2 linked regions of the Homo sapiens genome follow. The main gene of each other region encodes a partner of the protein of the gene in region 2 in a complex. Each region holds a gene or a part of one and is shown on either strand. Other genes may lie near its edges.

The links. The genes of interacting proteins can lie anywhere in the genome.
Region 1: VPS72 (region 2) and BRD8 share a complex: the UniProt entries of both Homo sapiens proteins name them as parts of the nuA4-related complex.

What each region holds. Positions count from the first base shown.
Region 1 is NC_000005.10:138,175,631-138,182,745, reverse strand, and holds the start of BRD8 (bromodomain-containing protein 8), read left to right. Parts: upstream 1-4,115; 5' UTR 4,116-4,131; coding exon 4,132-4,150; intron 4,151-5,078; coding exon 5,079-5,175; coding exon of another isoform or gene 5,176-5,180; intron 5,181-7,115. Other genes in the region: kinesin-like protein KIF20A, read right to left, coding at 1-160, 285-423, 1,018-1,137, 1,235-1,324, 2,901-3,065. UniProt on the Homo sapiens protein: May act as a coactivator during transcriptional activation by hormone-activated nuclear receptors (NR). Isoform 2 stimulates transcriptional activation by AR/DHTR, ESR1/NR3A1, RXRA/NR2B1 and THRB/ERBA2.
Region 2 is NC_000001.11:151,187,107-151,194,054, reverse strand, and holds the start of VPS72 (vacuolar protein sorting-associated protein 72 homolog), read left to right. Parts: upstream 1-3,857; 5' UTR 3,858-3,933; coding exon 3,934-4,050; intron 4,051-6,948. UniProt on the Homo sapiens protein: Deposition-and-exchange histone chaperone specific for H2AZ1, specifically chaperones H2AZ1 and deposits it into nucleosomes.

The DNA of each region.
Region 1 (7,115 bases), on a different chromosome or scaffold from region 2:
AGCTTCTTCATTTCCTCCTGTCGGATCTGCTTGCTGTCTAGCCAGATTACCTCATTGGAGAGCAAGGGCTTCAGATCAGGTGTTGGATGAAGTTGGCCTTGGAGGCTATTGAAGATCAGCGCCAGGGACCGGGGGAGAATCCCTCCATCCTTGATGGTACCTGGAGGCATATGAAAGATGGACAGCTGAGGCAAGTGCCCTTCTCCCCCTAACTCAGAGTCTCAAAAGGTAAAAACAACACCATTACCAGCCAATCAGGAATCCCGTGAAGGCTTACTACTCACCTTGAATCGTGTGGGTTTTCCCTGAGTTAGTGACTCCATATGTATAGATGAGCCAGTTCTGCCCTTTGAGTACATCCTTTACCATCTCCTTCACAGTTAGGTTGAAGAAGGATGCCTGTCCCACTTCTGGCCCAAAGATCTAGAGAGAGACCCAGTTTTTTAGAGGCCTCTCCTTCATCTCCCACTTGCCTCCTGTGCAGAGCCAGCAGATATATTCCTTCCTGAGTGGTTGGCTCTGGAGACCACTCAAGCAGCTTCTTCCTGCAATGCTGCTGGCTGTTCCCTAAACACTGAGGACTCAAGCACTCTCTGCTAGTCCATCTTTCCACCAAATCAACAAACACTTAAGGAATGCTATGCCCTAGGCCTGATGCTGCACACACAATGGGGCAATATAATGGCCCACAAGTATGGGCTTTGGAGATACATGGATCTAGACTCAGGTCCTAACTCTACTAGTGACTAGCTACATGGCTTCAGCAATATTACATTCATTGAGCCACACTATCCTTGTGAGGAAAATAAGGAAATAATGATAATAACAATAGAATTTTTCAGAACTGATATACATATGTTACTTGACACATTGACTAACACATAACTAGGGCCCTCAAAATTGTAGGTGTGCATATACAAGGAACTCACAGTCAGGAAGAGAAGCTTTCCCTCTAAAGAGGGAATAAAGTTGCCCTTACATGTTGGTCTTTTGTTCACAAACCAGTACCCTCCATACCTGGGAAAAGGTGAACCTGTGTGTGGCTTGGCCAATTCCCCGTTCATTGCTCTTCAGGGCAAAAGAGTCCTTGGGTGCTTGTAGAACAAGGGTCTCCACATTCTCAATACGGACACAACCCTGAGAAGGGAGAAAATACAGTTGTCACAGAAGGCATTCCTGGGAATCTTTTGTACTGCATCATTTCACCTTGAATCCTCCCTTCTCAGACACTTACCTGATCTTCCTGTCGTTCCAACTCTGAAGGTAACAAGGGCCTAACCCTCAAGTATACTTTCACCTTCTCCATACTGTCCTCAGATGGAACCTGTGGCAGAATCCCAGCCCAGAACCACAGATTAATTTCAGCAGTTACCTCTGAGCAAATGGGCAAACAGTAGTTTCTAGGAACTATGATAACACTACCCCATTTCACCTCAAATGTCTCTGTGCAGCTACTCTTTGGTTCCACAATCATTCCAACCCACATGGACATTTTTACTACTTTGTCACCCTTCCCTGTCTCGTCATTATCCTGCAAATGTGGCTTGCCACACCGATGATCTGAGTTCGAATTTATTGACTGGTATGAAAATTAGTATGTGATATTAAAGCAAAGCAGAGGCAAACACTTGAATTTGAGTCCCAATTCCATGACTTAGTAACTATGAGACCTTGAATTATGAGTTCTTGAAATTCTTGGCCTCAGTTTCCTCATCTGCAGAATGGGGTTAATAATAGCACCTATGTCATTCATTCAACAGATACTTAGAGGCTGGGTGCAGGGGCTCACGCCTATAATCCCGGCACTTTGGGAGGCCAAAGAGGGTGGATCACCTGAGGTCAGGAGTTCCAGACCAGTCTGGCCAACACAGCAAAACCCCATCTCTACTAAAAATACAAAAATTAGCTGGGCTTGGTGGTAGGTGCCTGTAATTCCAGCTACTCAGGAGGCTGAGGCAGGGAGAACTGCTTGAACCCGGGAGGCGGAGGTTGCAGTGAGCAGAGATTGTGCCACTGCACACCAGCCTGGGGGACAGAGCGAGACTCCATCTCGAAAACAAAAAAACCCAAAAAACAAAAAAAACCCAGATATTTAGAGTGTCTACTATGGCCTAGGAACCGAGAAGCTCTGATAGTCCATAGTGAGAGACATCATCAAGGACCATGCTCTCATGGAACTTTATAAGTCTCTAAGAGAAACTCTATAAGAGCACAAAATCTGACAATGTATGTTAATGTTTAGCATAGGACCTAGTACAGTGTTTCTCAACCAGGGTCATTTCCACTCCAAGGGCCATTTAGCAATGCCTGAAGTGCCTGAAGACATTTTTTGATTGTCACAAATGGGAAGGCACTACTGACATCTAGTGGGTAAATGCCAAGAATGCTATTAAACATCTTGAAATGTACAGGACAGATCCCTACAAGAACTGTCTAGCCCCAAATGTCAATAATGCTGTAACTGAGAAACCCTGGCCTAGCAGGAAACCTACAACAAATTGAAGCTATGGTGATACTATTAAAACCTGAACATACATTCCACTTACATAATGCCTATATGACCTTGTGCAAATTATTTAGCACAACTGGGCCTCAAGGCAAAGAGAGATAACTATTATTCCCTGAAAGATTAACTAAGAGCATGCATTTGAGGCTATTTCATTAATGCAATGCAAATTATAGTTCTTCTGGACACACAACTCAATTTTTTTTTTACTTGTCATGCCCTTAATTTTTTTTTCTTTTTTTCTTTTCATAGCCATTTTGTCCTAAATGCCCTTAATTTTGAATTGATCTCAGACCTTTAGGATTGCTAGTCTTTGACCTCATACTACCCTGTATGGACAATTATTGGCCTGAGGATATCACTTTCCGCCCCAGCCACTCCCCAGTTCCTTTACCTGCTGCTTGTCCTCTAGGGAGGTAGAGACGACAGAGCAGTCTGATAGCAGGTTCTTGCGTACCACAGACCCCAAATCTGCAGCTGTGGACTCAAACATGGGAGAAACTACGACATCGTCATCGGACAGCAAGCCCGCTGGCGGAGAAAGGATCCCTTGCGACATGACGGCAGGGGCAGCCTAGGTCTAAAAAGAGACCAAAAAGTGGGCAGGGAGAAGAACCTTTAGGGACAGAAGGGGCCGCGAATTTTAGGTAATAAGTCCCTTGCCCCAGGACACCGTGTCCCGCTTCCTACTTCTTTTCCCCTCCAATTATCGGCAAAGGGGAAGGGAATGAGAGAAGTTCACTTAATGAACAATTGAGAGAAGTTTGAGGCGGCATTTCTGAACGCGAACAGAAGTCCACAGACATCTGGCTCCAAAAGCAGAAGGCTACGCCTAAAGTAGGGCACCTCGCCCGCCGGTGCTGTGGAGGTGGTGTCAGGATCCCTCGGCTCCTTCTCTAACCTCACCCCAAGGACCACCGTGAGAACAGAGATGCAGCATTAAGAGAAAAACAGATGGCTGCAGCTCCGATTTCTTAAAGCCTATTCCGCGCGGGCAAGAGCTGGTAACCCGGGCTCCAGCACAGCCGCACACTCACCCGAAGACGTGCCACTTGCTCCTCCTGGGATACTGGCTTACTCACACCTAGTCGCCGAAGCTGGACTTTCGCAGCCGCAGAGCACAACTCCGCCCACGAGGTGCAGCTTTGTTACAGATACAATATTTTAAATTACGCGCTGCGTTCGTTCGGCCAATCAGATAGGGAAGCCTGCAGCTACCAATCCGCGTAAGGAAAGGGGGCGGGCCTGACTGGAATTCCAGTCGTTCGCTTCTGCTTGACCTCTGAGTTCTAATGTGGGTCCGGGTTACCAACTGTCGTGGATTCGCACTTATTTTGCCTGGGATTCTTCCAACTTAACCTTTTTCCTTGAACCTTAGACATTTCTTACCTAAGAGCCTAAAGGAAATCTTGAGGCTTCAGCAGCCAACTCCTGTCCTTCCTTAGCAACAATCTTAACAGGAGTGCACAGGGTAACTGGTTTAGGGTGCTTGCTTTGTCTTAAGGGGAAAAACGACATTTCCCAGGAGGCACCGCGAACCAACGCCGGTACACTATTTCCCAGAATTCCAGGGTTTCGGCCCTTCCAGACCGTCTCTCCTCAGGGTTGGAGACTTCGGGGCCAAGATGGCGACGGGAACGGGCAGTGAGTATCTGAGCAGGTTTTGCGTGAAAGGCCTTTGTAGATCCGAGGCTAGGCACCATATTTTTGTTACACGCTTAGGGAGTGGGAGAAGTGGGTTGCTTGAGAGCCCAGGGTTTTCAGAGACCTGCGCTCTACAGCATCGTGAAGACCAACGTTTGGGGGCCCAGAAATCTGGGGTCTTGTTTCTCAGGGAGAGAGCGGAGGTGTGAGAGAAGCAGCTTAGTGAATCCTAGTGTGTTAGGAACTCTGCGGGTTAACCGTAAAAGCACTCTAGAAACTTGGGCGTGCAGACGAAAAGATGTTATGAGCCAGACGGAGTAACCGGCACCTCAAAGAGCCATTCATTTTTTTGTCTGACGTTTGTGAGGCAGTGGAAGTGGGGTCTTTTAACCATGAGCTTTTCTTGCCACTCAGGAAATTGCATCTCGGGGATTTCAGCCATTTTTCTTTTTTTGGACTGAAAAGCTCTTTTACCCCCGACATTTGGAGTAGAGGATCTGAGAGAAGTAAACAAGTTTATGCTAAGAGGGAGGCGGGGTAGTAGGAGGGGCTGGCCGCTCGGGTTCCTGGGAAATAAGCCCTGAATAAGTTCAAACTGGAATAAAGTCCAGTATTCTTAAAACTGGGCTTTTAGGGAGAACTGCCTAATCTGACATTCCCTGTTTCTTAATAAAGCGGAGCTTCAAGCCATGGCGTTTTAAGAAATAAAATGTTAATAATTCACATGCAACGAATAGGTACCCCGGTCACTGGTGATATTTCACTTGGAGAGGTGAAAATCAAGATTTGGTTATAGTAGCTCACTTTGTCCTAACAAGTTGGGATGTTTTGTATTAGGCTTTTAGTCCTCTTTTTGGGGATTTTGGAGCTTAGCACTACAGTCTCAGTGGTTGTTTCCAAGGCTTTTTTTTTTTTCTCCCTTTCCCAGAACACAAGCTGCTAAGCACTGGCCCCACAGAGCCATGGTCCATCCGAGAGAAGCTATGTTTAGCATCTTCTGTCATGAGAAGTGGCGATCAAAATTGGTAAGGTATCTAGGATGTCAGCTTTTCTGGGTCTTAGAAATTGTTAGATACTCTTTCACATCGGTAGATTTCTATAGTTAATCATATTAAGCTGTAAGTAGACTTTCTTTTCTTTTTCTTCTTTTTTTGAGACTGAGTCTCCTTCTGTTGCCCAGGCTGGAGTGCAGTGGTGCGGACACGCCCAGCTAATTTTTGTATTTTTTAGTAGAGACAGAGTTTCGCCATGTTGGCCAGGCTGGTCTCGAACTCCTGACCTCAGGTGATCCCCCCACCTCGGCCTGCCAGAGTGCTGGGATTACAGGTGTGAGCCACTGCGCCTGGCCATGCCTGGCTAATTTTGTATTTTTAGTAGAGACGGGGTTTCACCATGTTGGCCACGATGGTCTCAATCTCCTGACCTCATGATCTGTCCGCCTCGGCCTCCCAAAGTGCTGGGATTACAGGCGTGAGCCACTGCCAGGCCTATTTTTTTTTTTTTTTTTTTGAGACAAGATTGCACTCTGTGGCCCAGGCTGGAGGGCAGTGGTGTGATCTTGGCTCACTGCAACCTCCATATCTCAGGCTCAAATGATCCTCCACCTCAGCCTCTTGAGTAGCTGGGACTACAGGTGCACACCACCATGCCCAGCTAATTTTTTTTATTTTTTTGTAGAGATGGGGGTTTCATCATGTTTCCTAGGCTGGTCTCGAACTCCTGCGTTCGAGCGATCCGCCCAACCTACTGGGATTACAGGTGTGAGCCACCAGGCCAGCTGTATTTCTTTTTTTAAACAGCTTTATTGAGATATAATTCACATACTATAAAATTAACCTACTTAAAATGTACAATATAATGGTTTTTAGTATATTCACAGTTGTGCAACCATCACCACAATCTAATTTTAGAACATTTTATTCTAAGAAAAACCCCTTACTCCTTAACTGTCAGTCCATGTTGTCCCCTCCTCACCACCCCCAAGCAAGCACTCATCTACTTTCTATTAATTAATTAATTAATTTGAGACAGAGTCTCACTGTCACACAGGCTGGAGTGTAGTAGTTAGATCTTGGCTCACTGCAACCTCCGCCTCCCAGGTTCAAGCGATTATCGTGCCTTAGCCTCCCAAGTAGCTGGGATTACAGCCATGCGCCACGAGTGGCCTGGCTAATTTTTGTATTTTTAGTAGAGATGAGGTTTTGTCCAGGCTGGTCTTGAAGTAATGCACCAGTCCTGGCCTCCAAAAGTGCTGGGATTACAAGTGTGAGCCACCATACCCAGCCAACTCTCTTGTCTCTGTAGATTTGCCTATTCTGGATATTTCATACAAATGGAATGATACGTGCTCTTCTGGACTTTTTTTTGTTTTTTTTAATCACTTGACATAACACTTTTTAAGGTTCATTCTTATGTAGCATGTATCAATACTTAATTCCTTTTTTAGCTGAATAATAATCTGTTGTATGAATATACCAAGTTTTATTTATCCATCACTTGATAGACAATTGGGTTGTTTCCACTTTTTGGCCATTATGAATAATGCTGATGATGTGCACATTCGTGTACAAGGTTGTGGACAATGTTTTTAATTCTCTTGAGTTTTTTATTCAAGGAGTGAAATTGCTGGGTTATGTAGTAACTTTATTATGTTTGACTTTTTTTTTTTTTTTTTTTTTTTTTTGCAGACAGGGTCTCACTGTCACCCAGGCTGGAGTGCAGTAGTGCGATCGTGGTTCACTGCAACCTCTGCCTCCTGGGCTCAAGTGATCCTCCGGCCTCAGCCTCCTGAGTAGCCGGGACTACAGGCACATGCCATCACCCCTGGCTAATTTTTGTATTTTTTGGTAGGGATGGGGTTTTGCCATGTTGCCCAGGCTGAACTTTTTTTTTTTTTTTAATTTAAATATTTATGTTTTTGTAGAGACGAGGTCCCACTATGTTCCCCAGGCTGGTCTCCAACTCT
Region 2 (6,948 bases):
AATTGGGTGTTAGGGGAGAGATGCTGGAGTAGTGATGTCGCAGGAGGTGTGACTAGAAGGACAGGGAGAGGCTAAATTATGAAGGATCTGAATACTGAATGCCATGTAGTAGTTACCACCTACTACACATTTACTATGCACTTACTAAACACTGTGCTAAGCAGTTGACAAGAATTATCTCTCTCTGTCTTTTTTTTTTTTTTTTTTTTTTTTTGAGACAGAATGTGGCTCTGTCGCCCGGGCTGGAGTGCAGTGGTGCTATCTTGGCTCACTGCAACCTCCGTCTCCTGGGTTCAAGCTATTCTCCTGCCTCAGCCTCTCGACTAGCTGGGACTACAGGCACCCGCCACCATGCCTGGGTAATTTTTATATTTTCAGTAGAGATGGGGTTTCACCATACTGGCCACGCTGGTCTCGAACTACTGACCTTGTGATCTACCCGCCTCGGCCTCCCAAAGTACTGGGATTATAGGCGTGAGCCATGGCACCTGGCCAATAATTATATCTCTTAATCTTCTACGACCTTAAAAGATAGGTATTATTATCAGTCCCACTTTGCAGATGAGAAAACTGAGATTCAGAGAAGTAAAGCAACTTGTCCAAAGTCATACAGCTAAAAGACCTTAAAGTTCACACTCAAATTCAGGTCTGGCTGGCTCTAAAGCTGTGTTCTCTTTTTGTTGTTGTTTTATTTTATTTTAATTTTTAATTGGCACATAATTGTACATATTTATGGGGCACATAGTGATGTTTCAATACATAAAATGTTTAGTGATCAGATCAGGATAATTAGTATATCTGTCATCTAAAAAATGTATCATTTATTTATTTATTTATTTTGAGATGGTGTCTCGCTCTGTCATCCAAGCTGGAGTGCAGTGGCACGACGTTGGCTCACTACAACCTCCACCTCCCGGTTTCAAGTGATTCTCATGTCTCAGCCTCCTAAGTAGCTGGAACTACAGGCACCTGCCACCACTCCTGGCCAATTTGCGTACTTTTTAGTAAAGACAAGGTTTCACCATGTCAGTCAGGCTTGTCTTGAACTACCGACCTCAAATAATCTGCCCACCTTAACCTCCCAAAGTGCTGGGATTACAGGCGTGAGCCACCGTGCCTGGCCTCACAAATATATAATTTATTTGTCTCCAGCACAAACATTCAATATCCTTCTTCTAGCTATTTGAAAATATTATTGTTAATCATAGTTATCCCCCAGTGATATAGAACACTAGAATTTTTTTTTTTTTTTTTGAGATGGAGTCTCACTCTTGTTGCCCAGGCTAGAGTGCAATGGTGCGATCTTGGTTCACTGCAACCTCCGCCTCCGGGGTTCAAGTGATTCTCCTGCCTCTGCCTCCTAGTAGGTGGGATTACAGGCACCCGCCAACGTGCTCGGCTAATTTTTGTATTTTTAGTAGAGATGGGGTTTCGCCATGTTGGCCAGGCTAGTCTCAAACTCCTGATCTAAGGTGATCTGCCCACTTCAGCCTCCCAAAGTTTTGGGATTACAGGTGTGAGCCACCACACCCGGCCAAGAACACTAGAATTTATTCCTCCTATCTAAATGTAATTTGGGGCCAAGCGAGGTGGCTCACACCTGTAATCCCAGCACATTGAGAGGCTGAGGAGTGGGGATCACTTGAGCTCAGGTGATCACCGTGGGCAACATGATGAAATCTCATCTCCACAAAAAGTACAAAAAATTAGCCAGGCGTGGTGACACGAGCCTGTAGTTCCAGCTACCCACGAGGCTGAGGTGCGATGATCACTTGAACCCAGGAGGTCGAGACTGCAGTGAGCAGTGATTGCATCACTGTATTCCAGCCTGGGTGACAAAGTGAGATCCTATCTCAAACAAACAAACAAACGAACAAACAAATGTAATTGGGGGCCAGTGTGGTGGCTCACAGCTGTAATCCTAGCACTTTTGGAAGCCAAGGTGGGAGGACAGCTTGAGCCCAGGAGGTCAAGGAGGCAGTGAGCCATGATCCTGCTGCTGCACTCCAGCCTGGGCAATAGAGACCCTGTCTCAAAAAAAATTGTAATTTTGTGTCTTTTTTTTTTTTCTTTTGAGATGGAGTCTTGCTCTGTTGCCAGGCTGGAGTGCAGTGGCACAATCTCAGCTCACTGCAACCTCTGCCTCCCGGGTTCAAGCGATTCTCCTGCCTCAGCCTCCCTAGTAGCTGGGACTACAGGTGCGCGCCACCACACCCAGCTAATTTTTGTATTTGTAGTAGATACGGGGTTTCACCATGTTGGCCAGGATGGTCACAATCTCTTGACCTCGGGATCTGCCCGCTTCAGCCTCCCAAAGTGCTGGGATTACAGGTGTGAGCCACTGTGCCAGGCCCAATTTTGTCTTTTTTTTTTTTCTGAGACGGAGTCTTGCTCTGTTTCCCAGGCTGGAGAGCAAATGGCGCGATCTCGGCTCACTGCAACCTCCGCCTCCCGAGTTCAAGCAATTCTCTGCCTCAGCCTCTCGAGTATCTGGGATAACAGGCGCCCACCACCACGACCAGCTAATTTTTGTATTTTTAGTAGAGATGGGGTTTCGCCATCTTGGCCAGGCTGGTCGTGAACTCCTGACCTCATGATCCACCCCCTTCGGCCTCCCAAAGTGCTGGGATTACAGGTGTGAGCCACAATTTTGTGTCTTTTAACAAATCTTTCCCTGTCCCTTCCTTCCCCCTGCTCTTCCCAGCCTCCAGTATCCTCTGTTCTTTCACTTCTATGAAATCAACTTTTTAAAAGCGTCACATATGAGTGAGAACATGCAGTGTTTTAACTTTCTGTTCGTGGCTTAAGTCAGTTAACATGTCCTCCAGTTCCATCCATGTTGCTGCAAATGACAGGATTTTCTTCTTTTTAATGGCTGAAAAGTATTCCATTGTGTATATACACCCTATTTCCTTTATTCATCTGTTGTTGGACACAGAGATTGATTTCCTATTTTGGCTACTCTAAGTAGTGCTGCAATAAATATGGGGGTGCATAAATATGGAGTGCAGACGTCTCTTGGATATACTGATTTCCTTTTTTTTTTTCCTCCTAAATTGGCTTCCTCAGGTTGAATTATGTCCTTTCCTTTGGATAAATGTCTATGGCTGTGTTTTTAACCACAATACTATGCTTCCTTCCTCAAGGATTTTTGACTTTATCTTGTAGATGATGTGGAGCCATTAAAAATGTTTGAGGACAGGAGTGGCAAAACGTGGGTTTTTAGAAAGTTTCCTACTAGCAGCAGTGTAGAAAATGGACTGGAGCGGAGAGAATGACCTCTTCTAAAAGAAAATGTGAGCTGGGGGCGCAGGCTTATGCCTGTAATCCCAGCACTTTGGGAGGCCGAAGCGGGCGGATCACCTGAGGTCAGGAGTTCGAGACCAGCCTGGCCAACACGGTGAAAGCTGTCTCTACTAAAAATACAAAAATTAGTTGGGCATGGTGGCGGGCGCCTGTAATCCCAGCTACTCGGGGGACTGAGGCAGGAGAATCGCTTCAGCCCGGGGGACGGAGGTTGCAGTGAGCCGAGATCGTGCCACTGCACTCCAGTCTGGCGACAGAGCGAGGCGAGACTCCGTCCCTACGGAAAAAAAAAACCATATATATATATAAAATAAAAATAAATAAAATAAAATGTGTTGACTTAGGGTTATGGGGGTCTTCGTACCACCAAGTGGACTCATTGAGCAAGGGAGATCGCTGGGTACTAGAGCAAGCGGCCTAGAGCATCCGCGCAGGAGTAGGAGAGGCTGAAGAGTAAAGAGGGTTTAGAGGGTGGGACTGGGAGTCTCTCGACACTCTGTTACTTCTGCCTGTAAACGCCCGACTTCCGCCGCTGGTGGCCACCCGCAGGTAGTGATGTCGAGCGTCGAGCTCCCAAAACCGAGCTGGTGAGGGGCTGCAGGTGGCGGCGCAGTCTCGGTAGGCGGTATGAGTTTGGCTGGGGGCCGGGCACCCCGGAAGACCGCTGGGAACCGGCTTTCTGGGCTTTTGGAGGCAGAGGAGGAAGATGAGTTCTACCAGACGACTTATGGGGGTTTCACAGAGGCAAGATCCGGGCCTGGGAAAAGGGAGGGGAGGAGGCAAAGAGGAGCCCTGAAGGGAGAAACCCCGGACAAAGAAGAAGAGGGCGGGGAATAGAGAGGAGCTCTGGGAGCTGATACTCGAGTTGGGTGGGTGAATCGGAGCCGGGGGGCGAGGCGGGGGAACGGATAGTGTGGAGTCCTAGAAGGGAGAGCTCTGGATGGGGTCAAAGGGGCCTGAGACGGAGAAGCTCTCCGGAGGCACTCCAGAGAACAGAGAACGGCAGAAACCTACCGTATACTTGCGTGGTTGCATCTTTCACTGTACTTCTGACGTCCAGCATACACGAGGCACACACATAGTAGTAGACAGTTGCTCGATGTATACTCGTTGGCCCACTGCTGGATTATTCACCTGAGACATGGAAAGGAACCGCTCCAAAAGTAGAGGAGCTTAGCCCACTTCTTTTTCAGCTTTCAGGTCTCAGTGTAAATGTTTTCTCAGGAAGATAACCCTTCCTTGACTATCCTAACAAGTGTCCCCATTTATTTCTTCCACAGAACATATTTCAATTTGCAATTAGATTTGGTTTGCTTACTTGCTTATGCTTTTCTATTGCATTGTAAACTGTATAAAGTTAGAGATGGTCTGTTTTGTTCAACATTATGTGTGAGGTGTCCGGACTGGGCTGCCACTTGCTAAATTTTTATTAGTTGAATCTACCCGTTTATTAAATGTGTTGAGTACCCAGAGCATGCCATCGGTAATAGGTTGTTTTAGGCTCTAGGGAAACAGAATATTAAAAACAGTGCTCTGTCCTTACATACTCCATGCCCCAGTGGGGTAACTGCCTGGGTTAACAGTTAAAATACTGTGTGATAGGCCGAGCACAGTGGCTTTGGCCGGGCACAGTGGCTCACGCCTGTAATCCCAGCACTTTGGAAGGCCGAGGCGGGTGGATCACAAGGTCAGGAAATCGAGACCATCCTGGCCAACATGGTAAAACCCCCTGTCTCTATTAAAATACAAAAATTAGCCAAGCGTGGTGGTGTGCGCCTATAGTCCCAGCTACTCAGGAGGCTGAGGCAGAGAATCGCTTGAACCTGGGAGGAGGAGGTTGCAGTGAGCCGAGATCGTACCACTGCACTCCAGCCTGGGCGACAGAGCAGGACTCCGTCTCAAAAACAAACAAAAAATGTGTGATAAGGACTAAAACAAGGTGTAAGAGTGTTAAGGTAATACATCTGAACCAAAGTTGTTGATCAGGATAGGCATCCCTGGAGGGATGATGTTTAAGCTGAGGACAGTTTGAAAAGTAGACCTTAGCTTGATGAAAAGCAGGAGAAGGAGAAAGGTTAGTCCACAGAGCAGGATGGGCTGAGTATGTAAAGACATTGAGATCCTGGTCTAGGACCTGCAAGTCTACTTTCATTCTCCAGAGCATGAAGGAGACTAAAGATTGATAAGCCTGCAGGGAGTAGGCATGGGCCAGATCCTTTAGGGCCTTGTGAGCTATGTTAAGGAATTTTGCTCTTCATCCAGAGGACTGAGAAGAGTCATCAGAATTCCACGATGAAATTTGTACTTTAGGAAGGTTACTTACTCTGTAATGAGAATGGCTTGAAGGGGGCATGGCAGTAGAGAAACAGAAAGATTCAAGAGAAATTAAGGAATAGAACCCACAGGACTTAGGGGCTGGGTGTGGTGGCTCACGCCTGTAATTCCAGCACTTTGGGAGGCTGAGGCGGGTGGATCACGAGGTCAGGAGTTCGAGACCAGCCTGACCAACATGGTGAAACCCTGTCACTACTAAAAATGCAAAAAATTAGCTGGTTGTGGTGGCGTGTGCCTGTAATTCCAGCTACTTAGGAGGCTGAGGCAGGAGAATCACTTGAACCCAGGAGGCAGAGGTTGCAGTGGATTGCGCCACTGCCCTCCAGCCTGGGCGACAGAGTGAGACTCTGTCTCAAAAAAAAAAAAAACCCACATCACTGACAGAGTCATTACTGACACAGCCCTAACCAACTAGTTTAAAATAGAACTTTCTCATCCCTCCTCTAAGGCCATTTTCCTATTTCTGTCATTTTACGACTTGTTATTTAATATGTACCCTTCATGCTTCCAAAAAGGATTTAAGGAGGCTTACAATATAAACAAAAAGTAGGAACAGTAAAAATAGAGACAGATCAGAAGTAATTGTACCAGGAACCTCTGCTAAAATGGTAATAGCAATTGATATTAAATTTAGTTGTGAGCTTCCTGGTAGCCAAACCTTGTATTTCTTTTTTTAGTAAGAAAGAAGCATACAAGTTCTTCAAGAGACACAAACTTTTTCAGCCTTAAATCCTAGGGAGCATTTATCATTATATCCTTATATTATAAAAAGTAATGGTTTTCATAGATGATATACAAACATTCTCTTTTCTAGTGATGTCTCTTAATGACTCTCAATAAAAGCCGAAGGAATGGTAGTAAATCCTTAATTTAGTGCAAGTATGTTGATTGGGCACTAAGCTAATGTGTGGTTGATCTACTACCCTCTGGTGATATGGCTTAATACCAGATTAAAGCTGAGGGGATTAATGTGTTCCCAGGCTGTCTTTTACAAACATCAGTTAGGAGGAAATGATGGTCATCAGTGCAAAATTGAACTCTGGCTGGCTTGGAGTGTCAGCCATCTGTGTTATTTGCTTGCTTTGGCATCATGTGTACCAAGATTAGCCCATTAGTCTGCATCACTGATTGAAGAGAGAACCACATATGTGAGGTGTCAGCCAGCCCAGTTGACTCCCTCTCCCTCAAGTGGCTTTTTTCCCTTTTCTTTATAATATGGCTGCCATTCTAGCCCTAACCAGTTCACCTGAGGTCTAGGCTGTACTTCACGTTCTCTACTCCAGGCCATCTAACTGCCCCCAGAGCTTT